Linked DNA regions of Homo sapiens: region 1 is linked to region 2. Evidence: fine-mapped expression QTL. A gene starts in region 2. The other region holds a variant in brackets. All regions are shown on one strand. Distances are from middle to middle.

Region 1 (13,974 bases), 39 kb after region 2:
AATCCCAGCACTTTGGGAGGCCGAGGAGGGCGGATCACGAGGTCAGGAGATCGAGACCAGCCTGGCTAACACGGTGAAACCCTGTCTCTACTAAAAATACAAAAAAAATTAGCCGGGTGTGGTGGCGAGCGCCTGTAGTCCCAGCTACTCGGGAGGCTGGGACAGGAGAATGGCGTGAACCCGGGAGGCGGAGCTTGCAGTGAGCCGAGATCGTGCCACTGCACTCCAGCCTGGGCGACAGAGTGAGACTCCATCTCAAAAAAAAAAAAAAGCGCCACTGTTTTAGGGTCCCAGAGATGAAGAGGAGTTAAATCCAAGGGGACCGCTGAGGGCAGAGAGTAATAAACCCTGGAGCAGAGAGTCCATTTCCCCTGGAAGTGTCCACCAAGGGGTCTGACCTGGGGGCTTAGGGTGTCTTCAGCAGCCTCCATGGGGCCAGTGTCTCTCTTCAACAGGGTCTCCACTCGCTGGATAATCTCCCGAATCCGTCTGAGAAATCCATCTCGCTCCGAAGGCAGAATGAACTCGTTATATACCTTGCGAGGGTCAACAGGATGGGGAGGGAGAGCTTGTTATCTCACTCATCCCTCTCCCCCTGCTTCTGATCTTAAAACATCAGGCTGGGCGCGGTGGCTCACGCCTGTAATCCTAGCACTTTGGGAGGCCGAGGCGGGCGGATCACCTGAAGTCAGGAGTTTAAGACCAGCCTGGCCAACATGGTGATACCCTATCTCTACTAAAATACAAAAATTAGCTGGGCATGATGGCGGGCACCTGTAATCCCAGCTACTTGGGAGGCTAAGACGGGAGAATCACTTGAACCTGGGAAACGGTGGAGCCAAGATCACACCACCGCACTCCAGCCTGGACGACTGAGCGAGACTCCGTCTCAAAAAAATAAAAATAAAAAATCCACCCTTCACACTACTGCTCCTGCCAACCACCAACCTAAAACAAGTAAATACCTATTGTGTTCCAGGCACTGTGTGGTGTAAGGAGAAATACAGCCTAGAAGGAAAGGTGCTAACATTCATAGGATGCGTATATATACCAGCTGCTTTGCGTATATTATCACATTTAACACCACCAGTAACTTTCTGGGGCCCACATTAATATTGCTATGGTAGAATTAAGATAACCAATGCTCAAAGAGGTTAAGTTCCGTCTGCCTAAGGTCACAGGATTTAAACCCACATCTACCTAAAGCCAGAGCCTGAGTTATCTTCACTGCTGCCTCCCATGTTTTGGACACAATTTCTGCCCCATAGTGTTTATAAAGTATAACACACAGGCCCACATACACCCATCCCACACGGTTAAGTCAGAATAAGGCAATAAATGGCAAATGTCACATTCAAATCCATGAATACTTATTGAGCACCTACTATGTGCTGGCATTGTGCTGGGTACTGTGGGAATACAAGGAAGCATGAAACAAGGTCCTAGGCTTAACGAAGCCCAAAACTTAGTGGAGGAGACACATAAATACGTAATTAAACTTACTGCAAGGCAGCCCGTAATACGTAAGGCACTTACAAGTGAGATATAGATAGAAATGTTGTTCCAGGGTTGGGGGGATGGGGGTGTGGAGAGGCAGAGTTGTTTAATGGGTACAGAGTTTCAGATTTGCAAGGTAAGAAAACCCCTGGAGATCTGTTTCACAGCAATGTGAATATACTTAATATTGCTGAACTGTACACTTAAAAATGGTTACGGTGGTAAATTTTATATTTATGGTTTTTTAATCACAATTTTTTAAAATGCTATTCCAAAGACAGAATACCACCCTGGGGATAGGGGGAAGCTGGAGCAGTTTCACAGAGTAAGTCTTTGGAGCTGAACATTGACAGATGAGAAAAGCAATCTCTATTGAGGACCTACCATGTGTGGACACTTCTACATTACACTGTGTCGTATCAGAACATCTTTGCAAAACAAATACTATCATCTGCATTTTACTTACATGCAACTGAAGTTTACAGAGTTAAGAAACTTGCCTAAGTTCATTGGATTAGTAAATAACAGAGCTGAAGTTTGAACTTAGGTATTACATGAAAGCGACCCCTTCCTCTATTCCAGGCTGTTCATCAGGAAGAGAAGAGCAGTCTAGGCAGAGAGAACAGTGTAGTAGCTTTGAAGCATGAAAGGCATGGTACATTATTATTTTTTTTTTTTTTTGAGACTGAGCCTTGCTCTATCACCCAGGCTGGAGTGCAGTGGCACAATCTTGGCTCACTGCAACCTCACCTTCTGGGTTCAAGAGATTCTCCTGCATCAGCCTCTTGAGTAGCTGGGACTGCCTGGCACCATGCCCAGCTAATTTTTATATTTTTAGTAGAGACAGGGCTTCATGTTGGCCAGGCTGGTCTCGAACTCCTGACCTCAAGTGATCTACCTGCCTCAGCCTCCCAAAAGTGCTGGGATTACAAGTGTGAGCCACTGCGCCCGGCCTATTCAATCTTTCTTTCTTTCTTCTTTTTTTTTTTTTGAGACAGAGTTTCGCTCTTGTTGCCCAGGCTGGAGTGCAATGGTATGACCGTGGCTCACCGCAACCTCCACCTCCTGGGTTCAAGTGATTCTCCTGCCTCAGCCTCCCAAGTAGCTGGGATTACAGGCATGCGCCACCACGCCCAGCTAATTTTGTATTTTTTAGTAGAGACGGGGTTTCTCCATGTTGGTCAGGCTGGTCTTGAACTCCCGACCTCAGGTCATCTGCCTGCCTCGGCCTCCCAAAGTGCTGGGATTACAGGCGTGAGCCACCATGCCCGGCACAGCCTATTCTTAAAATAGTGAGGACTCAAGTGTAGCTGAATGTGCTGTGAATTTTAAAGGCTTTGGAATTTGGACCTTACTCTACAACCACAAGTAGCCACTAAATAATTTCGGGTGAATATCAAGAGATCAGATCCAAGTCTCAGGAGAATTCTGCTGCAGAGGAGTGGAGGGTGGACTGGGTAAGGAGAGAAAAGAGGGCAAAGGACTCTGGGTGCATGGGGTGGGGTCACTTTGGCTGTGCAGGATCAGAGGGGACTTGAAAGCCCAATACAGAAGGCTCTACGAGTGAGAGACCCTTAAGGAGGTGGAGGCAGAGGCAGGAAGGCACCCAGCCTTTTCAGAGGCCCATTTTGAAACCAGTGTGGCTGGATGGAAGACTCTGAAAGAGTCAAGTGGTTTGACGGAAGGTGATGAGCCTTGTGTGCCAGGTGATATTGTGTCTTTGTCCTGGACACAAGGTGAATGACATGATGGAGGAGATGCTTTAGAGAGGGCTCCTGATGCCTGGTGTTTCTCCCATTCCTTTCCCTCCTTCACCCCATGGGCTGGCATCCACCACCCCCACTCCACTGAAACTGGTCTCCCACAAAGATCTCCTAACAAAAGCCAGTGTGGTCTTGCCTGAGGATTCATCCTATGCCACCTCCTTGAAACTCTCTCCTCACTCAGTTTTGACTAACATCCTCCTACGTCTCTGGCTTTGTCTCTGTGTCCTTCGATGACCTACCCTCCCGCTTCCCACTCCAGAACTGGTGGTATGCGCTGAGACACACTCTGCAACCCTCTGTGTCTCTGGCTTTGCCGGCTCATCTCCCTTCACTCTCAACTCTGTACTGACTACTCCTCCATCCACATCTCTCCAGCCCTGCCTGACCCATATCCATGGCTATGGAGGGTCTTGTCTTGGCTGTCCCTTCTTCACTCAAGCTCATCATGACCTCCTTAAAAAAAACCTTCTTTCATTTCTAATTTCCTCTCTCCTTTGGTGGCCTACTCTCCTACTCTCCTTTGGTGGCCTACAAGTTGTCCTTGACATCCCTTCTCCCTAACTCCCAATCATATCAACTCAGCAAATATTTATTGAGCATCTACTATGTACTATGTTCTCTACTACGTCAATAGGTTACTGGATTACAGAGTAACTTATTTTCCCGAAACAACCCTCAGATTCACCCTTTCTCCTCTTCCCTCCCATAAGCCACTCTCTCCTTTGTCCACAGATGGCTTCCTGGGTCTACCTCCCAGGTATTTTCCCTTCCCCCTTCCACATCCCATGGCAGATGATTTTCATAAAGCCTACTGTCACGTTACACTGTGCCTTTTTGTTTTTTTGTTTTTGTTTTTTTTTGAGACAAAGTTCACTCTGTCTTCCAGGCTGGAGTGCAGTGGCGTGATCAAAGCTCACTGCAGCCTTGACCTCCCAGGCTCAAGTGATCCTCCCACCTCAGCCTCCCAAGTAGTTGGGATGACAGGCATGTGCCGCCACACACGGCTAATTTTTTAAATTTTTTGTAGAGATAGGGTCTCATTATATTACCAGGGTGGTCTTGAACCCCTGGGCTCAAGCAATCCTCCTACTTCATCCACCCAAAGTGCTGGGATTACAGGTGTGAGCCACTGGACCTAGCCTGCTCTGCCTCTCTATTTATTTATTTATTTATTTATTTATTTATTTATTTATTTATTTTTAGACAGAATCTCACTCTTGTCGCC[C/T]AGGCTGGAGTGCAATGGTGTGATCTCGGCTCACTGCAACCTCCGCCTCCCGGGTTCAAGCAATTCTCCTGCCTCAGCCTCCCAAGTAGCTGGGACTACAGGCATGCGCCACCACACCCAGCTAATTTTTGTATTTTTTAGTAGAGACGGGGTTTCACCATGTTGGCCAAGCTGGTCTTGAACTCCTGACCTCGGGTGATCTGCCTGCCTCGGCCTCGGCCTCCCAAAGTGCTGGGATTACAGGTGTGAGCCACCACGCCTGGCCTCTGCCTAACTCTTAACATTGTCTATTCTACAATCTGGGCCCACTCTACCTACCCGGCTTCACTCCCCACAACTCTCCTATAGGAATCTTTACTTCCAGTGATAGTGGTTTCCTCATGAAGCCCTCCCAGCCCCATATTCCAAGACACTCTCTACTTGGAATGCCTTTGCTTATGCTGTCCCTGCACAGGGACACCCTTCATGGCCTTTCCACCCTTCACAGCCTTTCTTGCCCATTTGCCAAGATCCTGGGTAAGCTCATTGCCCCTGCTGCCCAGTCCATCCTTCACCTACAGCCACAGTATTGCACATCTACCAGGCACTTATACGTAGCACTTGTGTGTACCCGGTCAATGTGAGTCTCAAATTGCTCCAGCTGAGAAGCCAAACCTCACTGGATAAACAGAAATCTCCCCCAAAACAAGGGCTGAGACATCTTCAGCGTTACTGTGCTAAGTGTCAACCAGAGATTTAAAAATGCTTGCTGTCGGATCAGTGGGTTTCAGCCCCAGCGGACATCAGGAAGGAGACTCTTGTTCCAGATCCAAACACTCTGTCCTCATCTCTCTCCCCCTCACCATGGCAGCTGCAATCTCTTCCGGGCTGTCCCCATCCAGATCAAATCGGAAGGTCACCATCTTGCTGTTATGGGTCTGTAGCTGGCACTCAACCACTCTGTCATTCTGGTCTGAGACCTTCAGATTCAAAGTCAGCAGAGGGGAGAAGGTCAAGCCCTCTTCATCATGCTGTGTCTCCACCCTACCCCAGCCAAGTGACAGCAGCCACAATGGACTTGGAGATAAGTAGACCCCACCTCTAAAGTCTGGTATTAGAAACCAGACTGGCCGCCTCTTGAGTACTAGTCATACACTGCTTCTCCCGTTTTCTGGGTGACCTCCCCCGCCTCCCCCTGACACTTCCCTCCTGGCCCTGTAGGTTACTCTCTATCTCCTGTACTCCATCCTTACACTAGTGACCCGCAGCCGGGATCGGGGTCTGCGCCGGAGATTCCTCCCTGGGGGTCTCCTCATTTGTCCCATCCCTTCTCCCACATCGCTAAGGCCTGAAGCTGCATCTGAGGCATAGCTGTTAAAGAGAAAGGAGAGAGAATGACTGTCAGAGCAGACACTGGGACCCCAGTGCCCCAGGTGTCTCACCCTGGCACCCCAACTTGTACCAGAACATACCTGTCCCCGGGGGAAAAGTCACTTCCAGGGCCAGAACGTGGAATGGATAGGGCAAAAGCCTGAAACAGGATAAGGGTTCATGAGGTCAGGGGAAGATAACTGTTGAGATCTAGGGAGATGGTGTCAAGGATGCTGGGAGGATATTAGGGAGATGGAATTAGGGAAGAGGAGGGCAAGAATGGTGGATTTCCAGGGACATGGGACTGGATCATGAGATTGGGTTTCACAAGGAGGGAGATAGGTCATAGGCTTGGAATGGCTGGGAGCCCCCCATGCGACCCCCTCTCACCGAGGGCAGGCAGAGATGGGACTCAGCCAGGCTGGATGGCACCCCCCCAGGGGGCTGAAGGGCAGGGTCTGAGGCATCCAGGAAGCCGGAGGAGCTGAGGTAGCCATCAGTCTCGCAATCCGCTGGTTGGGGAGGGAGAGGATCAAAAAAAGGGGAAATAAAAGGGAATAGTGGCAGAGGATGGGGCCTGCCTAAGCAAGGAGGGGCCTGGAGCTGTGGGAGAGTTCCTTCCTGGAGGGAGCTTCATGGCTAGAGGTGGAAGGCAGGGTAAGTGACTGCTGTGGGGGTGAACTTCTGGGTAGGGGGCAGAGGCCAAGGTGTTCTGGGACCTACGTCTCAAGATCAGGGGTGACTTACAAGTGGTAGATGAGTAGCTGGCGTGGCGGAAAAGGAAGGGCTGGTGCTGGTCTGCCTCTGGCTCCTCAGGCTCAGGGGGGAAGACACTGGGGGGACCGGGGGCCATGGGCACAGTTGCTGGTGGAGGTCCTGGCTCTGGTGGGAGTGCCTCCAATTCCCTTGCTTTACGCAGCTTCTCACGCTTTCGCTGGATGGCAGCAACCCGTTCACGTACTGCACGGGCCACTGGCTGGTAATCGGCTTCACAGACCAAGCCCAGAGCCACCTGGAATTGGGGTGGGGGATGAGGAACACAGCTTGGGACCCCCTATCAAAGATCCATCAGGACGCCTTCTTGGGAACTCCAGGATATGGGAGGAAGAAAACCAACACTTACTGATTACCCACTATGTCTGTTAACTGGCAGCTCCTTACATTATCATCACTAGATCCTCCAAACAACCTTGTGGGATAAATCTTACCATTCGATTTTTAGAGATTAATGAAGTAGCTGGTTCATAGTTATACAGTAAGTCAGTGGTTTCCAATGGGAAGAAGAGATGTTTGGCACTATCTAGAGACATTTTTAGTTGCCACAACTGGAGGGTAGGTGCTACTGAATCTAGTGAGCGGAAGCCAGGGGTTCTTCTCAACATCCTACAATGCACAGGACAGTCCCTAAAACAAACATGTCAACAGTGCCAAGGCCAAGAATCCCTTGTCAGCAATGGATCAAGATTTGATCTCAGGTCAGGTTGGGCCGTGCTATGGAGACCTGCTCTAAATTTCTAACACATTCTCAGATTCTTGACCTACCGTAGGTGGTCTCCACCCTTGCAACTGTCATGTCTCTATTAAGAATCCCATACTCGGCCAGGCACGGTGGCTCACACCTGTAATCCCAGCAATTTGGGAGGCCAAGACTAGTGGGTCACTTGAGGTCAGGAGTTCGAGACCAGCCTGGCCAACATGGTGAAACCCCGTTCCTACTAAAAATACAAAAATTAGCTGGGCGTTGTGGCTTTTGCCTGTAATCCCAGCTACACAGGAGGCGGAGGCAGGAGAATTGCTTGAACCCAGGAGGCGGAGGTTGCAATGAGCTGAGATAGCGCCACTGCACTCCAGCCTGGGTGACAGAGTGAGACTCCATTACTCCCAAAAAAAGAATCCCATACTCCCTTCAGGACTTCCTAAGCCAGCCCCCAAGCTTCTGCCCTTGCATCTTATGCCTCTCCCCTTCTACCAGCTTCCATTCATCACCTCCTCATTCCTTTTAGCCGCAAGCTTTGCTGAATGAGTAAAGGAGGTGGGGAAGGGTAACCTGATTTAAAATCTGAACCACCTCAGTTTCAATCCAGCTCTTCCACTTACTTACTTGGGGCCCTGGACAAGGTATTCAACCTCTCTGAATTTCCATTTCCTCATCAACAAGTTGAGATAAAACTGCCCCCTATGCAGGATGGGTAGCAAAGATCAAATGCATGTGAAAGTGCTTTAAGCCATGTACAGATGTAGGCTATTAATGAGCTCTTACTATGTGCCAAGCACTGCCAGGGATAGAAGAATCGATAAAACACAGTCTCTGCCCTCAGGGAGTTTATAGTCTAGTGGAGAAGAAAGATAGGAACTTATTCAGGTTTAAGACAGGACCGATAGTGGGGAGTGCTGTAACCGAGAACATGCTGAAGTGGAAAGAAGCATTTAAGTTTGACTCCAAAGGGGACGGCTTCCCGAAATCGATGGTTCTGATCATATTGGAAGAAAAAGAAAAAGAAAAATGGGGAGGGAGGAAAGAAGGAAAAGATGAATTGGCAAGAAGGGCATCCCAGGAAGAACAGATCAGCTGGAGGTAAAGCAGGGACGCTGGAGGACCCAGGGCTCCCTCTGTAAAGGAAAACTGGGTGTGCGTGCGGGTAAGTTAGGGCTGGAGAGGTAGGGAGACGCTGCAGGAGATTTTGAGAGGGGTGAGGTGCCCCGCCCCCATCGCTGCCACCCCTCCTGCGCCCCATCCCTGTTGCACTGTCCCCTCGAGTCAATGTCCTTTACACGTCCAGTGGCAGCACAGTCTGTCCTCCGCTCACCATCTCCTGTGCCACCTCCTCGGCCGCGTCCCGGCCCAGCTGGAACAGGAACTCGATGGCCTGGTTGTCCCGTGGGCGCCCCCCGCGCCGCGCGTCCTCCATGCGCAGCCAGAGCTTGAGGCCCGGCTTCTCGCCGTCGTCCTCCTCCGCTAGTTCCACGTGCACACCGCGCTCCTCGCGGAAGAAGGCGTGGGCCAGGAGGTCCTGGATGGTGAACCTGAGGGTGACGCGTGGGTGAGCCGAGCCCGCCGCGGCCCGCGGCCCTATTCTACCCACGCTCTGCCCTTTCACCCCCACCTCTCGTTCTTATCCGTGCGGATGCAGCCTTCAATGATCTCCTTCACCTCGGGTATCTTCACCTTGTGGAAGCTGTTCGGCTTTCTGCCCTGGGGAAGGGGTTGCATGACACCTCCCGTCCTCTGATCCCCAGCTCTCGGCTTGACACCACCCCCCACCCCTTACTCCACTCCCTCCTTAGGCAGCTGCGCGTGCAGTTGCAAAAGCCTGACTGCTACTGGAAGATGTGATTTCAAATCCTAATCCCCGCCCCCCCCCCAAGTATTTACAGTGTGATCTTGAACAAGTCTCCCGCTGTTTGTTCATCTGTAAATCGCAGGGTGGAACATTTGCCCCGCTCACCTCACAGGGCAGCTGGAAGGATTGGATGAGAGATGGGATGCGAAATCATTTGTGAACTCTTGGGAGCACCACACATATTATTATTCTAAATAGCGTGTACTGGTGGGGGCGCGTGTGCACTCAATATCCTTCTGTGTTCACCAAGGCGACTCTGTGTCTAGCCTGTTTTCGTGCAGGCAAAGGGCATTGACTGCGGGCTGGCCGGCGCAGGAAAAGGGGAAGTGGCCCTGGAATTGCCTTTCCCGCCAGCCCCATCCCTCTCACCGAAGTGACCTTGCGGTAGATTTGCGCGGCATTCTGGCACTCGGAGTACGGGTACTCAGAGGTGGCCATCTCCAGCATGCACATGCCGAACGCGTACACGTCCACGGCCTCATCGTACTTTTCCTCGTACATCTCGGGGGCCATGAATTCCGGGGTCCCTGTAGGGTCCACAGCAGGGATCAGATTGCTGGGCACTCTGGCCTCGTCCTTCCCACTGGGCTAGGCAGCCCCAGGCAACCCTGCGAGTGCAAGTGACCCCGGCCCACAGTGGGGTTGAGGTGGGTGCCATAGGTCTCCTCAGCTTCCCTGTCGTCTGGTAGTTTTGTGGACCTTGAAGGCCCTTGCTGAGGGGAGGGAGTCCCCAGGTTCTCTTCTGAGGTGGGGGAGGAAGGAATGGCATGGACCCTCCTGGAGAGACGCACCGATGACACTCTTGGCAAAGGAGGCGCGCTTGAGCGTGGCCAGGCCCAGGTCCCCGATTTTGACAGAGCCAGTAGGTCCCGTGATAAAGACATTGTCGCACTTGAGATCCCGGTGCAGGATGGGAGGAACCCGGGAGTGTAGGAAATGAAGTCCCCGCAGGATTTGGCGGCTCCAGCGCTGAAGGACCCGCGGCTTCATCTCCCGGAACCGCCTCAGGTACCTGGGGGAGGGCGCATAGCCAGAGTCCTGGTGGGGGGACACGTCCTCCGGGAAGGAGCCCCCCACTGGGAAGTTCCCCCCTGCCGCACCCTGCTGCCGCCTCCGCATCTTCTGCCAGCATTCTCCTAGCCTATGTCTGCCCGGCCCCAGGGAGAAACTGAGTCAGGGGGCATGGTGGATAGACATGACGTTACCAAACGGGTTGGGAAGTAAATTGATAGATAGGGCCTCGGCCAAGGTGCTGTGGGAGCGCAGGAAGGGATGACTAACTGCCCCAAGCATGAGGGAGAGCTTCGGAGAGGAAATACTTTTGTGTTGCATCTTGAATGATGAGTAGGAGCTCAAAGGTGAAAGGGGGAAGGGATGGAGACTTCCCAGGCAGACAGGACACCGTGCTCAAAGGCACAGAAAAAGCCAGTGACAAGGCAGGGTGGGAGGAGGTGCCAGGAATTTGGTGTGTCTGGAGCTTAGGCTGAAAGTGAGGCTGTATCCTAAGGACTTTGTGAACAGGTGAGCCTGTGTGGGCTTTATTCCAAGGCCATGAGAAACTTTGAAGGGGTTTTAAGGAGGGGAGTGACAGTTCAGATTTTCAACTGGGAAAGATTCTCCAGGCTGCAGGAAGATAGGATCGCTTAGAGGGTGGCAGAGTTTGGGAAGGCCCTTTAGGAGGCTGCTGCAGGGCTCCAGATCAGCGAGATGGCATTGAGGTGGTGGCATGGATGAAGCAGTGAAAGCCAGGTGGGGAGAGGTTAAGGAAAGACTTGGGGACAGACTGATGAGGGGGCAGAGTGGAGAAAGAGGAGTCTGGGGAGACACCCAAGTATTTTACTGGAGTGCTGGGTGGACATTGCCACTCACCGAGGCAGGGACAAAGGTTGGGTGAGAGGGAGATGGTGAACCTGGTTTTACACCTGGATATTAGAGAGTTTGAGGAGCCTGGGAGTTCAGGAAGCAGTGGGCACACATCCCAGCCTCCCTCTCCCCACCCACTCATGCGCAGAGCTCACGTCTTGAGCGTGCCCGAGGTCATGAGTTCGGTGACCAGCACGATGCAAACCTGGCCCCTCAGCACCGACTTCCACGAATCATAGAAGCGGACGATGTTGGGGTGCTGCAGCCCCTTGAGCATCTCCACCTCCTCTGAGAAGCGCTGCCGCTCAGCTCTAGACAGTTTCCGAGTCTGTGGGATGGGGGACGGGTGTCATGTCAGGCCCAGGACACCCACAGAAAGGAAGAGGGACACCTGGAGTGGGGTTGGGGGAAGAGGTGAGGGTTGGAGCCCACAGATGGGGTGGGGTTAATGGGATTACTTGCCCAGTGGGCTGCAGACCCTGAACTCTCCAACAGTCCCGCACGTAAGCTGATCCAAGGACACACCCAACCTGGGCCTGGGGCAGCCCCCTAGACCCCCTGCTGGACACAAGCACCTTTATGCAGCCCGGTCCCAGAGCCCTGAGCTCAATAGTGCCTTTGTGGCTGCCCAGGCCGGCCATGGGGCGGGAGGGGGCACCCGGGGGCTGGCAGTGAGCAGGCAGCAGGCGGGCAGCAGGATACTGCGGGCAGGGAATTGGGGCCGGCAAGGGGGTTGGCCCCAGAAACAGAACTGCTAGATCCAGACGGAAGGCGGGAGGGATATGGAGGGAGGTACTGAGAAGGAAAGAAAAGATCCAGGACTAGGCGCCAGGAGGCTGCCCACCCCCATAGTCGTCCCGCCCCGGCTCCTCTCCCTCCCCTCACCCCCCAATTTGGCTGCCTCTCCTGGCCTGGCCCAGAGCCTGGGGCGCGGCACTGGCAGGCGCAAGGGGCGAGCCCTGTGCCAGGGCTGGAGAGGGACCCTTCCCCTAGGCTCTGTCCCCTGATCTGAATCGGAAGCTTCAGGCCCCAAGTTGACTGGGTTCTCCTAACCCATATGTAGCATGGGAGCAATGGGAGGAAGGTCCCCCTAAAGCCCATGGGCTTAGTGCCTTTAGGTCTGGGAAGGGAGAGCACAGGTAGGCAGTGGGATGAGGAGCAGAACTGGACTCACTCGAGAGCTGGAGCTCCCTATGTCCCCCTCCTCGCAGCTGTGGAGAAGTCCAGAAGTCTGACTGCTCCAGAAGGGGTTAGGGGGCCCTATTCTGCCACAACTGCCCTAAATCTTCTGGAGTTGGAGATGACCCTTGCCCAGCTCCTGGCTTCCCGCATCCCAGCCTCCTGGTCTGCAAATAGGTGGGGGACGGGAGGAGTGAGGGGATCAAGAGGACCAGGGTCATAACTGAGGATCTCAGGACTTAGGGGAGAGGAAGGGATTGCGGGTACCCACCAGCAGGAAACTGACCTGAACTGGCTCCCCTGCCTAACTTCCCATCCTATTTTCCACCTCTCAGGGTTGAGTATGGAGACTTTAAAGTGAGAATGTTCATACCCATGGGGGAGTCACCAGACACCACCTGCCTCAATCTCTCCTTCTGCAGCCCAGAGTCAGCCAGATCATTCAGGGCAAAGACAGCAGAGGTGTCTATAGACATTTGACTGGAAAAATACATGCTTCCCTTGATGCTGTCTCCCCCACCCTCTGTCTGTCATCCTAAGACCTCCAGAGTCCCATCCCAAGGTGCCACCGAGGGGGCTCCCAGCCGCACCTGCAGCTCACACCAGGCCACCTCCACTGTGGTGTCGGTGTCTAGCCCTCGATACACCGTCTTGAAGGAGCCACGTCCAATCTCGATGTCAAACTTGAGGTATCGGCCATCGGGGGACGTTGCCACAGCCTGGGTCTCCATGTCCTCCTTTTCTTCCTGCTCCCGCCGCCGCTCTAGGGCCACAGCTTCAGGGACCCTTAGCGGCTCCCTGGACCCCGGGCCCACTGCAGAGTCCGGGAGCTCGGGACGCGCGGAGTCTTCCGCAGCCTTCACAGGGGCTCCCTCGGTCCACGTGCCCTCGGGGGGTTCTTTGGAGCTAGGCGGTGGGCTCCTCGCGGGGCCAGGACCAGCGGAGTCCGGAGGATCGGGGGGGTCCGGAGCGGGTGAGGCTGGCAGGGACCAAGAGCTCAGCAGCCCCAAGTCGACTGAGCTACGGCGGCTGAGACGAGAAGAGCGCGGCCGGGGCTCAGCCTTCCCGGAGAAGCGGCGCGCTCGGCGAGGAGGGGGCCCGAGGCGGGGCTGCCCCGCGGTGCCAAGAGGAGGCGGGGGCCGCAGGGCCAGGTCGGCCTCAGTCTGGGACATGAGGACGGTGGTCTCCGTGGCCGGGGATGCCAACATGAGGAAGAGCAGGGCGCCGAAGGGTAGAAAATCAGACGGCCGGAGAGGAGGCGGCCTGACAGACGGACTCGCTGGGTGCGCTGCGCTCCGGCTGAGCGGCTGCGGCCCCAGCCCCCAGCTCGGCCTGGCCCCGCCCCCGTCGCCGCCCCGCGGCCCGCCCTTGCCCCCCAGGGCCGCCCCTCCGAGCTGCTCCCGCGGTGCGGATCCCGCGAGCAGCCCCTCACCTTAGTCACCGCCCCGCCCAGCCGCGTCCCCTTCTTTCCCGAGCCCCCGGCCGCAGTCTCACTCTGAGGCCAGAACTGAGTGGGAGACCGCGGAGCATCCTCCCGCACTAAGAGTGAGCAAACCTGTTTGTGCGCGGAGGAGGGCAGGAGAGAACGACACCCGGACCCTAGTGGGGGATTACTTAGGGGGAGGCTACCACCCTCCTGCACACCCCAGATAAGGCAGCACCACCCCCTCCTAACTGTCCGGAGTAGCCCCAGGCCGAACGGAGAGGTCAGTGGAAAGGTCTGACGTTGTTGTCCCTCTGGTCTGCATAGGGA
Region 2 (11,427 bases):
TAAGATGGAATTTTAATAATTAGTAATAAATAATAGTATGTAATTTTGTAGTGTTGTGAATATTAGAAATAATATATGTAAAACAATTAGCACAGTGCTTAGACACAAAATAAATAGTAGCCACTGTCAGGTAAGTAAGTGATCTGTTAATGCTTAGCATGAAGAGGTTACTCCTTAAATTACAGTAATTATTTCCATTCCTGCTTTCAAGCTCAAAGTCCTTTTCAGCTTATAGAAGGCCACATATAACATCATGCTCTATCAGTTTTCCCCCTTTTACATGTTTTCTGTTAACACATTTCCCTGGGAACTTTTGAGATCCGATTTGAAACTTCAGGAATTATTTCCCACATTTACTCCATTCTATTTTAAGTATGCCACTATTCTTATTCCAGTCAGAATTTATAACATCAACTGGAAAAGCTAATATGTTTGTGCCTGTTAAAATATGCTTTGTTCTCAAATAATTATGTTTTGTCTCCTTCAAGTAGGTTATAAGACAGATACACATTCTCTTTATTTCCCTTCCTCCTCCCCATCCAAGTGTTTAATATAATACTCCATTCATTTGTTTATTCAGTGAACAACTGGAGAGTACCACTACACTTAACAATAACTATTCATTTCTGGGTGCTTACAAGTCACATGTGATCACTGATGACTGGTCTAATTTTAAATTCATGTCCCAAAATCTCAAATGAGTGCACAACACTGCCTGAGCTCCTACTACATGCTCCTGACAAGTTTGCTCTCCCACCCTCCCAATGACTATCATACTTTCTCATCTCCCTGAACCTCCAGTATTCCTTCTCTCCCACCTCCAACTTATGGCCTGGGCTCATTCTTTATTGAGAAAACAGAAGCAGATGAGAACTACCTCATCATCTCACCACCAAATCTGCCAATCTGCAAAATACTTTCTGCCTTTCCTCTTTCATTGAAGGAAACAAACCTGTTCCTATCTCTTCCTTTTGTGCTTTGGATTCCATCCCCTTTGACTTTCTCAATCCCATGTCTGTGCCCATGATTAGCCCCTCTTTTTCCTACATCACATCCTCTGCTGGGTCATTTCCAGACATAACCAATATCCCCTATCTTGAGAAAACTCCCCCCCGAATCCAGATTCCTCTGTAGCTGTTACTCCCTTTCTGTGCTCTCCTTCCTGGCAAGACTTCTTGAATTATTTATTGTCTCTTACTCTACTTCCTCATGCCCCATTTACTCCAATCCACTCTAATCAGACTTCTCAACCCCACTTTCTCACTGATATAATTTTTGTTAGGTTACCAATGACTACCATGTTGACACCAGTGGTCACCTCTCATCTTATTTGAATCTCTCAGTAGTACTCAATATATTAGCCACTCCCCTTCTTAAAATACACACAGCAACCTGTTCTGATCTTTCTCCAGCCTCAACAGTGATTCCCCATTTCCTTTGCTGGCTCTTCCTCCTCTGCTCCACTTCTTAATGGTGGCATGCTTCAGGAGACTTAGGTCCTTTATTCTCTGCTTACACTTTCTCCCTAAGAGGATCTATGCATGTTCGGCCAGGCGCGGTGGCTCACGCCTGTAATCCCAGCACTTTGGGAGGCCGAGGCGGGTGGATCACGAGGTCAGGAGATAGAGACCATCCTGGCTAACACGGTGAAACCCCGTCTCTACCAAAAATACAAAAAATTAGCCGGGCGTGGTGGCGGGCGCCTGTAGTCCCAGCTACTCAGGAGGCTGAGGCAGGAGAATGGCGTGAACCTGGGAGGCAGAGCTTGCAGTGAGCTGAGATCGCGCCACTGCACTCCAGCCTGGGCGACAGAGCGAGACTCCGTCTCAAAAAAAAAAAAAAAAAAAAGAGGATCTATGCATGTTCATAGCTTTAAGTATCATCTGTATTCGGCCAGACACGCACGGGGGCTAATGCCTGTAATCCCAGCACTTTGAGAGGCCAAGGCAGGCAGATCACCTGAGGTTGGGAGTTCGAGACTAGCCTGAACATGGAGAAACCCCGTCTCTACTAAAAATACAAAATTAGCTGGGCGTGGTGGTACATGCCTGTAATCCCAGCTACTCGGGAGGCTGAGGCAGGAGAATCACTTGAACTGGGGAGGTGGAGGTTGCGGTGAGCCGAGATCGCGCCATTGCACTCCAGCCTGGGCAACAAGAGCGAAACTCCATCTCAAAAAAAAAAAAAAAAAAAAAAATCTGTATGCTGATTTGAGGGCCCCAGATTCGTATCTCCCATCTGACATCTTCACTGAGTTCTAACCATCTATTTGATGTTTCTACTTGGAAACCTAATGAGCATATCAAACTTAACATGGCCAAACCAGAATTCTTGATTCTCCCACACACCTGTTATTTTCCTATTCTTCTCCATCTCAGTAATTGACATAACTGTCCACCTAGTTGTTCAAACCAAAAACCTAACAGTCAACCTTGATTCCTCTCTTTTCCTCGTCTCTCCACATTCAACCCATCAGCAGGTCCTGTCAGCTTTCCCTGTATAATGCATCCTGTATGAGTGTGCTTTCCTCCATCTCTTGTTACCCTGGCCAAAGCCACTGTCATCCTTTGCTAGGACTATTACAATAGGCTCCTATCTGGTCTCTCCATTTCCACTCTTGCCACCCCCCACCAACTGTCACATTCTGTTCTTCACTCAGCACCAAAATTTATCATTGATTGATTGACTGACTGAGACAGGGTCTTGCTATGTTGTCCAAGTTGGTCTCGAACTCCTGGCTCAAGTGATCCTCCCGCCTCAGCCTCCTGAGGAGCTGGGATTACAGGTGCACACCAGGCCAGCTCAAAATAATCTGCTAATATGTCAGCCACAGAGATGGTAGCATCTACTCAAGCTGAATATACCTAAAGAGAGAGAGAGAAAGAGAAAGAGAGAGAGAGAGATCCCAGAAACCTCAACTCTAGGGACCCACCCAAGAGAAATGCATAAATATATTCACCAAAAGACATGAACAAGAATGTTCATAGCAACACTATTCACAATAGACCAAACTGGAAACTACCCAGATGCCTCTTAACAGCAAGAGAGATATCTATATTTTAATATAGTCACACAATGGAATACTACAAAGTATTGAGAATGTATGAACTAAAACTACACAAGGTGGGTGAATCTCATGATGAGCGAAAGGAAACAAGAGTATGTCATGTATGATTCCATTTACATGAAATTCAAAAAACAGTCAAAACTCAATCTAGGGTGTTAGAATTGACAATATTGTTTGCCCTTAGGGTGGGCATCAATTAGAGGGTGGCATGGGAGAGGGAGTTGGGTACTGGTTACATTGACGTGTTCATTTTGTAAAAATTCATTGAAAATACATGTATGATTTGTGTCTTTTCCCCTATGTATTCTATCCCCCCGTAAATAGTTTCTTTTTAAGTCAGCCAGTCAAGTCTCTTCCCTACTTACCACCCTCAGTGGTTTCCAGATAACATAGGCCTTCCTGAATCCCCCAGTTGAAGCAGCTCCTCCCACCCTGCCCCCACTTACTCTCTATCACATCACCTTCTTACCTACTGTATTAGCTTTCTAGGGCTGCTGTAGCAAAGTACCACAAAGTGGATGGCTTAGAACCAAAGAAATATATTGTCTCAGAGTTCTGGATGCCAGAAATCCAAAATTAAGGTGTCAGCAGGACCATGTTCCTTCTAAGGGAGCCAGAGAAGTATCTGTTCCAGACCTCTTTCCTGGCTTTTGGTAGCCTCAGGTCTTCCTTGGCTTACAGATCACCCTGTGTCTCTTTACATCATCTTCCCTCAGACACGGTACATGTCTGTCTCTGTGTCCAGATTGCCCCTATTTATAAGGACGCAGTCATATTGGTCTAGGGCTAACATCAATGACCTCATCTGCAACGATCCTATTTCCAAAAAAGGTCACATTCCCATGTGTTAGTCCCAGATGTTAGGACTTCAACATCTTTTGGGGGACATCATTCAACCCATAATATCTGCCATTATCTGAAATTATCTTATTAACTTGGTTACATGTTTACTGTCAAATTCTCTCCTCTGGAATATAAACTATTAGAGCAGTTCACCAGTATATCCTCTCAGACCTAGAATAGGGACTGGCACATAGTAGATGCTCAATAAACATCTGTTGAATCGATGACTGAGGATATGTTGTGTATTATTCACAATCCCTCAAGCACTACATACACTGATTACATATACTTCCCAAGTGTGAGGATACACAGAGCATTCACTATGTAACAGTCATTCCCCTCCATTCCAAATGTATCAGCTCATTTATCACACTACCCTTTATGATATTTACTACTGTATACTATTAATCTCATTTTGTAAATAAGAAAACAAAGCACAGAACAGTTGAATAAATTGCATAAGGTCACATGGTTAGTGGATGGTAAAGAACCAGGTGGTCTCAACTTCCAAATCCTCAGTTGTAACACTATACCCCCTACCTCTCTAGAAGCCCGTTACTTCTCTATGCGTTTCTGAGATGTTAGGGACAGCCAAGCAGGAAGAAACGCAGGACTATGAAGCAGCCACACCAGGACTAGGTGAGAATTCTTTGGGGATGATTCCAGTCACCTCCCCTAAAGGGGCTTTCATGCTGAAAGAGCCAAGAGGAAGAAGGATTGTAAACACTATCCCTAGTCACAAAACCGGGAGAAAAATCAATCTAGTTCCACATATCACATCCAATACCAACTATAAGAAACCACATACATTTAAAAGAAAAGAAAGACACTTCTGGAGGTGGGAATAACTTTCTAAGCAGTATAAGTCATCAAGAAAAATAAGCAGATTTGACTTGAAAATTTAAAACTTCCTGAACATCTGGAAAATAATTAAAGCATTCATGAAAAATTACTAAAAATACTGAGAAAAATACTAATAATCCAATACCTAAATAATCAAAGAATGCAAACATAATTCAGAAAAAAGTAACTACTGCTTGAGCCCGGGAGGCGGAGATTCCAGTGAGCTGATATTGCACCACTGCACTCCAGCCTGGGTGACAGAGTGAGACCGTGTCTCTTTTTTTTTTTTTTTTTAAAAAAAGGCCGGGCATGGTGGCTCACACCTGTAATCCCAGCACTTTGGGAGGCCAAGGCGGGCAGATCAGGAGGTCAGGAGATTGAGACCATCCTGGCTAACATGGTGAAACCGTCTCCACTAAAAATATAAAAAATTAGCCGGGTGTAGTGGTGGGCGCCTGTAGTCCCAGCTACTCGGGAGGCTGAGACAGGAGAATGGCGTGAACCCAGGAGGCAGAGGTTGCAGTGAGCCGAGATGGCACCACTGCACTCCAGCCTGGGCAACAGAGCAAGACTCCATCTCAAAAAAAAAAAAAAAAGTAACTACAATAAGCAAATACATAGCAAAAAGTTCAGCCTTACCAGCAATCAATGATGCTAATTAAAATAACAAGGAAGTGCCATTTTTTGCTTTTGTTCCCCAAATATATGATACCCAATACTGGCCAAGGCAATATGAAAACAGGCTTCCTCATACATTACTGGAAGCAGAATATAGTTATGTGCAAGCACTTTGGAAAATGATTCCCAGTGTTAAGGAAGAGACATTAAATAGCTGACACACTCTTAATTCTGTAGTCCCAGTTATGAGTCTCTATCATAAGTAGCCAGCTCTTCATTGCAGGATTATTGTAATCACCCACAGGGGAAATAGTAGAATTTCCAGCGGTAAAAAAATACACTAAGGCAGTACATTTAGTGTAGTGTAATGTAGCCATGATAACTACAATAACTGTGTAGCAACATAGAAAAATGTTAAATTTAAAAAGCAGAAGCCTGGGCAACAAAGTGAGACCCCATCTCTTTTTTTTTTTGAGATGGCGTCTCGCTCTGTCACCGAGGCTGGAGTGCAGTGTGAGACCACATCTCTACAAAAAATTTTAAAAATTAGCTGGGCATGGTAGTGATCACCTGTGGTCCCTGCTACACTGGAGGTTGAAGCAAGAGGATTGCTTGAGCCAGGAAGTCAAATCTGCAGTGAGCCATGTTTGTTTGTTCCGCTTCACTCCAGCCTGGGTAACAGAGTAAGACACTGTCTCAAAATAAAAATAAAATAGACAATACTACATACAATTTTGGGTTAAGCAGTGGTTTCTTTTACACCAAAAGCATAAACATTGGACTTTATTGAAATGAAAAACTTTTGGCCAGGCACATTGGCTCACACCTGTAATCTCAGCACTTTGGGAGGCCACAGTGGGGGATTGCAAGGGGAGATGGGAAATGTTCTAAAACTGGATTATGGTGATAGTTGGGCAACTGTGTAAATTTACTAAAAATTATTGAACTGTACATTTAAAAAGTGTGAGTCTTATGGTATGTAAATTATACCCCATAAAGTTGTTTTTAAAAATGAAGTAAGTCCCTCTGCTCAAGACCCAGTCATCTCATCTCATTCAAAGTGAAAGCCAGAGCTTTACAATCCCTATAAGAGCCTAGGTGGTAGCTCAACACTCTTACCTCCCTCACCCCATTTTCTGTATCTCTTTTCGTTGCCCATCTTCTAGCCACACCAGCCTCTGCTAATCCCCAAACAGGTACCCTCTGTGCTCTTGCTGTTCCCTTGGCCTAGAATGCTCTTCCTTAAGATGCAGGTAAGAATTCCTTCCTCACCTTCTTCAAGCTTTTATTTGAATATCACTTTCTTTTTTTGTTGGTTTTGTGTGTGTGTGTGGGGGGGGGGGGTTTGAGATGGAGTTTCCTTCTGTCGCCCAGGCTGGAGTGCAGTGGCATGATCTCGACTCACTGCAACCTCCGCCTCCGGGGGTCAAGCGATTTTCCTACCCCAGCCTCCTGAGTAGCTGGGATTACAGGCGCACGCCACCATGCCCAGCTAATTGTATTTTTTAGTAGAGACGGGATTTAACCATTTTGGCCAGGCTGGTCTCGAACTCCTGACCTTGTGATCCGCCCGCCTCGGCCTCCCAAAGTGCTGGAATTACAAGCGTGAGCCACCATGCCCGGCCTTTTGTTGTTGCTGTTGTTGTTCTGAGATGGAGCCTTGCCCTGTCGCCCAGGCTGGAGTGCAGTGGCCCGATCTCGGCTCACTGCAACCTCCACCTCCCAGGTTCAAGCGATTCTCCTGCCTCAGCCTCCCGAGTAGCTGGGATTAAGCTGGGATTATAGGCGTGCCCCACCACGCCCGGCTAGTTTTTGTATTTTTAGTAGAGACGGGGTTTCACTGTGTTGGCCAGGCTGGTCTCGAACTCCTGACCTCACGTGATCCGCCCTCCTCGGCCTCCCCAAGTGCTGAGATTACAGGCGTGAGCCACCGCGCCCGCCGCCCCCTGAATTTAGAGAATAGCGGAGCCTCCCCATTCTCTGCGGCCTTGGCTCCTACACTTCCCGTGGTAACCTTGTTCATCCGCTGAAGCCCGCTGCTTTTCCCAGCCCGGCCTCTGGGGGCCGCTGCCGGGCCTGTGAGCCTGTGGACCAGGAGCTCCTGCTGCCGTCGTAGCGTCACGTCCGGTCTCGGGCGGAAGTTTTCCGGCGGCTACCGGGAAGTCGCTGAAGACAGAGCGATGGTAGTTCTGGAGGCCTCGCTCCGGGGCCGACCCGAGGCCACAGTGCCTCCGCGGTAGACCGGACTTGGGTGACGGGCTCCGGGCTCCCGAGGTGAAGAGCATCGGGGGCTGAGGTGGGACCTTAGAAGGGAGTCTGGGAACCCTCACGGCTCTTATTGGAGTCCCTTCCCTGACCCTGGGCTCTAAACTGCCTTTGCTCAGGCTGTCCCGGAAGCAGGTCCTCCCCGTATCATACCATTCCTAGAGGGAACGGCGCAGGTTGGGACTTCCCTCCCTTTACCATCGTCACCAAGGCATGTGGTAACCCCGGGCCGGAGGTCAAGGGCGTCGCTTCTCCCTAATGTTGCCTCTTTTCCACGGCCTCAGGGATGGAAGGGTCTAAGACGTCCAACAACAGCACCATGCAGGTGAGCTTCGTGTGCCAGCGCTGCAGCCAGCCCCTGAAACTGGACACGAGTTTCAAGATCCTGGACCGTGTCACCATCCAGGAACTCACAGGTCAGCGAGACCCTTGGAAAGAGGGTGGTCAAGAATGTGGAAGGTGGGCAGCTTTGGTGATATAATTCTTATGGTGGCTGTGTAGTCTGCCACAAACTCATCGTGTGAACCTAGGAAAGTCACTTCATCTGGCTCCCTGTTTTCTCCTTGGAAACATAAAGCATTCTGACATTGTGGACTTCTGAGAGCTTTCCGACCGGGCGCGGTGGCTCACGCCTGTAATCCCAGCATTTTGGGAGACCGAGGCGGGCAGATCACCTGAGGTCAGGAGTTCGAGACCAGCCTGGCCAACATGGCGAAACCCCTCTCTACTAAAAATACAAAAATTAGCCGGGCGTGATGGCACGTGCCTGTAGTCCCAGCTACTCGGGAGGTTGAGGCAGGAGAATCGCTTGAACCGGTGAGGTGGAGTTTGCAGTGAGCTGAGATCGCACCACTGCACTCCAGCCTGGGCAACAGAGCGAGGCTCCGTCTCAAAAAAAGAGAGCTTTCAGTAGCAAAAGAAAGATCCTTATTTTCTGCTCCTGCTGTTTCAGAGAAAAGGAATATGTATATATAATAATAAATGGTATTTTTTGAGGACTTACTATATAGTAATACCAAGTGCATTACACGTATTACTTCATTTAGTCCCTGTAACAACCCGTACGGGGTATACCGTCATTACATCATTTTTCAGATGAAGAACCGAGGCACAGAGAGGTTAAGTGACTTACCTAAGGTCCAACAGCTGGTAAATGGAGTAGAGTCTTAAAGTCTGAAGAATTTGCTGGATGTGATGGCTCACGCCTGTAATCTCAGTGCTTTGGGAGGCTGAGGTGGGAGGATCGCTTGAGCCCAGGAGTTCAAGACCAACCTGAGCAACCTAGCAGAGATCTTGTCTCTAAAAAAAAAAAAAAATTGCTGGGTGTGGTGGGTGGTGGAGGCTGAGGCAGGAGGATCACTTGAGCCCAGGAGGTCAAAGCTGCAGGAAGCTATGATCATGCCACTGCACTGCAGCTTGGGCAACAGTGCAAGACCCTGTCTCAAAAAATAAATTAATTAAAAAGGCCAGGAGTGGTGGTTCACACCTGTGATCCCAGCACTATGGGAGGCTGAGGCAGGTGGATCACTTGAGCAGGAGTTTGAGACCAGCCTGGGCAACACAGTAAGACCCTGTCTCTATAATTAAAAAAAATAAAAAACCCCAAAATCCCGCAAAGTCAGAAGAATTCAGATTAAGTCAGACAGTAAAAGAGAAGACTGAATAGGCAGCTTAAATAAGCTTATGGGCCTGGAGTCAGCCTGCTTGGGTTTAAATCCTGGCTGTCATTTACTAGCTGAACAACTTTTTGCAAGTTACTTCATTTCTCCAAGCCTTGGTTTCTGATTTTTTCTGTAAAACGTTAAACTGCCTCATAAAGAATTTATAAAGTTCAAATATGACAAACCACAGAAACACTTAGGAATTTGCTGGGCAAATAGTATTCAATAAGTATTAGCTGCTATTATTACCTGGTTTCTCTTTCTTGAGGGGAAATTAGCTCTTTTTTTTGTTTGTTTGTTTGAGACGGAGTCTCACTCTGTTGCCAGGCTGGAGTGCAGTGGCGCGATCTCGGCTCACTGCAACCTCTGCCTCCCGGGTTCAAGTGATTGTCCTGCGTCAGCCTCCTGAGTAGCTGGGACTGCAGGCACACACCGCCACGCCCAGCTAATTTTTGTATTTTTAGTAGAGACGGTTTCACTATGTTGGCCAGGATGGTCTCGATCTCTTGACCTTGTGATCTGCCCGCCTCAGCCTCCCAAAGTGCTGGGACTACAGGCGTGAGCCACCGCGCCTCTTAAACTCTTTTAATAACAATTTTTGACTTTTTATTATGGAAAATTTGAGACATATATAGTCAAGAGAATAGCATAGCCTGCCTTGTATTCATCATCCAGCTTCAATAATCAGCCATATTCTCACATTCTTATGTTGTCTACACCTCCATTCACCTCCCATCCTCTGCTCAATTATTATGTTTTTCACACCTTTTTAGAAAGGTAAATTGTCATGACTTGAAATGTATGAATCTTAGCTGTACATTTTTGACAAATGGATACACTGATGTAATCTGGATCGTTGCAATTTAGCAATGTTTCATCTTCCTAGAAAGTTTCCTTATGTTCCCTCCTTGCTATTCTGGGGGAAACAGGATGTTTGCTTTTGTGATGGAAAATTTCAGAGTATATCATGAACTCCTGTGTACCCATCACCTAGTTGCAACAATTATCAACACATATTTAATCAAGTTTTGTCTACAGCCCCATCCATTCCTTCCCACTCTGAATTGTTTTGAAGCAAATCCCAAACATAAATACTGTAAATATTTCTGTATTTTTGACAGATAAGGATTCTTAAAGATAAATGATACCGGCCGGGCGCGGTGACTCAGCCTGTAATCCCAGCACTTTGGGTAGCTGAGACGGGTGGATCACGAGGTCAGGAGATCAAGACCTGGCCAACATGGTGAAACCCTGTCTCTACTAAAATACAAAAAAATTAGCTGGGCATGGTGGTGCACGCCTGTAGTCCCAGCTACTTGGGAGACTGAAGCAGGGGAATCACTCGAACCCGGGAGGCAGAGATTGCAGTGAGCCGAGATCGTGCCACTGCACCCCAGCCTGGCGACAGAGCAAGACTCCATCTTAAAGTAATAATAATAATAATAATAATGATACCATTATGCCTTAAAAAATTGAACATTTCTTTAATCTGATTTAATGGGGGTGAGGAAGACCACAGATTCTTTTGGTGTAAATGGTACTTTAAGAAAAATTGGAGGTGAGGGTGGTGATGAGAATATTTCACATTCTTTTCCCATACTTTCAGATGCCCTCCTGCTTTAATAAGACTGTTTCTGACCCAATATTTTCCTTGCCCTTAGCTCCATTACTTACCACAGCCCAGGCGAAACCAGGAGAGACCCAGGAGGAAGAGACTAACTCAGGAGAGGTAATAGAAGTGCCCTCTCCCCTATCCTCCTCATGTAGTAAACATTCCAAATGAGAGATATGATATGAAAACAGGAATGCAGGCTTGGTTTCTGCAGGCTACTTGGCGCTTCTAGAGCTCCCGGACTTTTGGGATCTCTGGGTAATGAGACATTCTACATGATCAGGCTGCTATGCACCATTGGAGGTACAGATCTGCACCTGAGGTCACAGGGTTACTGAATTAGTCATTTTAAAATGTTGGAAAGGGCTCTTTATTTGAAGCAGAATTATAAATTATTGTAGGTTGGAGATGGGATGACCTGTGTGTCCAGGTCGTTCTAGAGCATTGATTTGCATCTGTTGTTCTAGCTAGTTGTTAATATCCACTCCTTTCCATTCTCAAAAGCATCCTGGTTAGGA

Evidence for each region. PIP is the estimated chance that this variant, and not a neighbour inherited with it, causes the effect.
Region 1: its variant is fine-mapped to the expression of BECN1 in whole blood (INTERVAL, PIP 0.94).

What each region holds. Positions count from the first base shown.
Region 1 is chr17:42,780,154-42,794,127 of GRCh38, reverse strand. It overlaps WNK4 (WNK lysine deficient protein kinase 4), which reads right to left and starts at 13,518. Exons shown (of 19, transcript NM_032387.5): 1 at 12,812-13,518; 2 at 11,198-11,370; 3 at 9,971-10,191; 4 at 9,549-9,706; 5 at 8,943-9,031; 6 at 8,646-8,862; 7 at 6,586-6,850; 8 at 6,229-6,350; 9 at 5,940-5,998; 10 at 5,721-5,838; 11 at 5,331-5,447; 12 at 399-536. The coding sequence starts at 13,429. RefSeq lists enhancers at 9,462-10,093, 9,999-11,198, 12,488-13,445. The variant C/T (reference allele first, on the strand shown) is at 4,489.
Region 2 is chr17:42,820,373-42,831,799 of GRCh38, reverse strand. It overlaps BECN1 (beclin 1), which reads left to right and starts at 7,518. Exons shown (of 12, transcript NM_001313998.2): 1 at 7,518-7,645; 2 at 7,921-8,052; 3 at 10,959-11,026. The coding sequence starts at 7,923. It overlaps MIR6781 (microRNA 6781), which reads left to right and starts at 7,857; the gene lies at 7,857-7,920. RefSeq lists enhancers at 6,589-7,155, 7,160-7,289, 7,156-7,724, 7,725-8,291.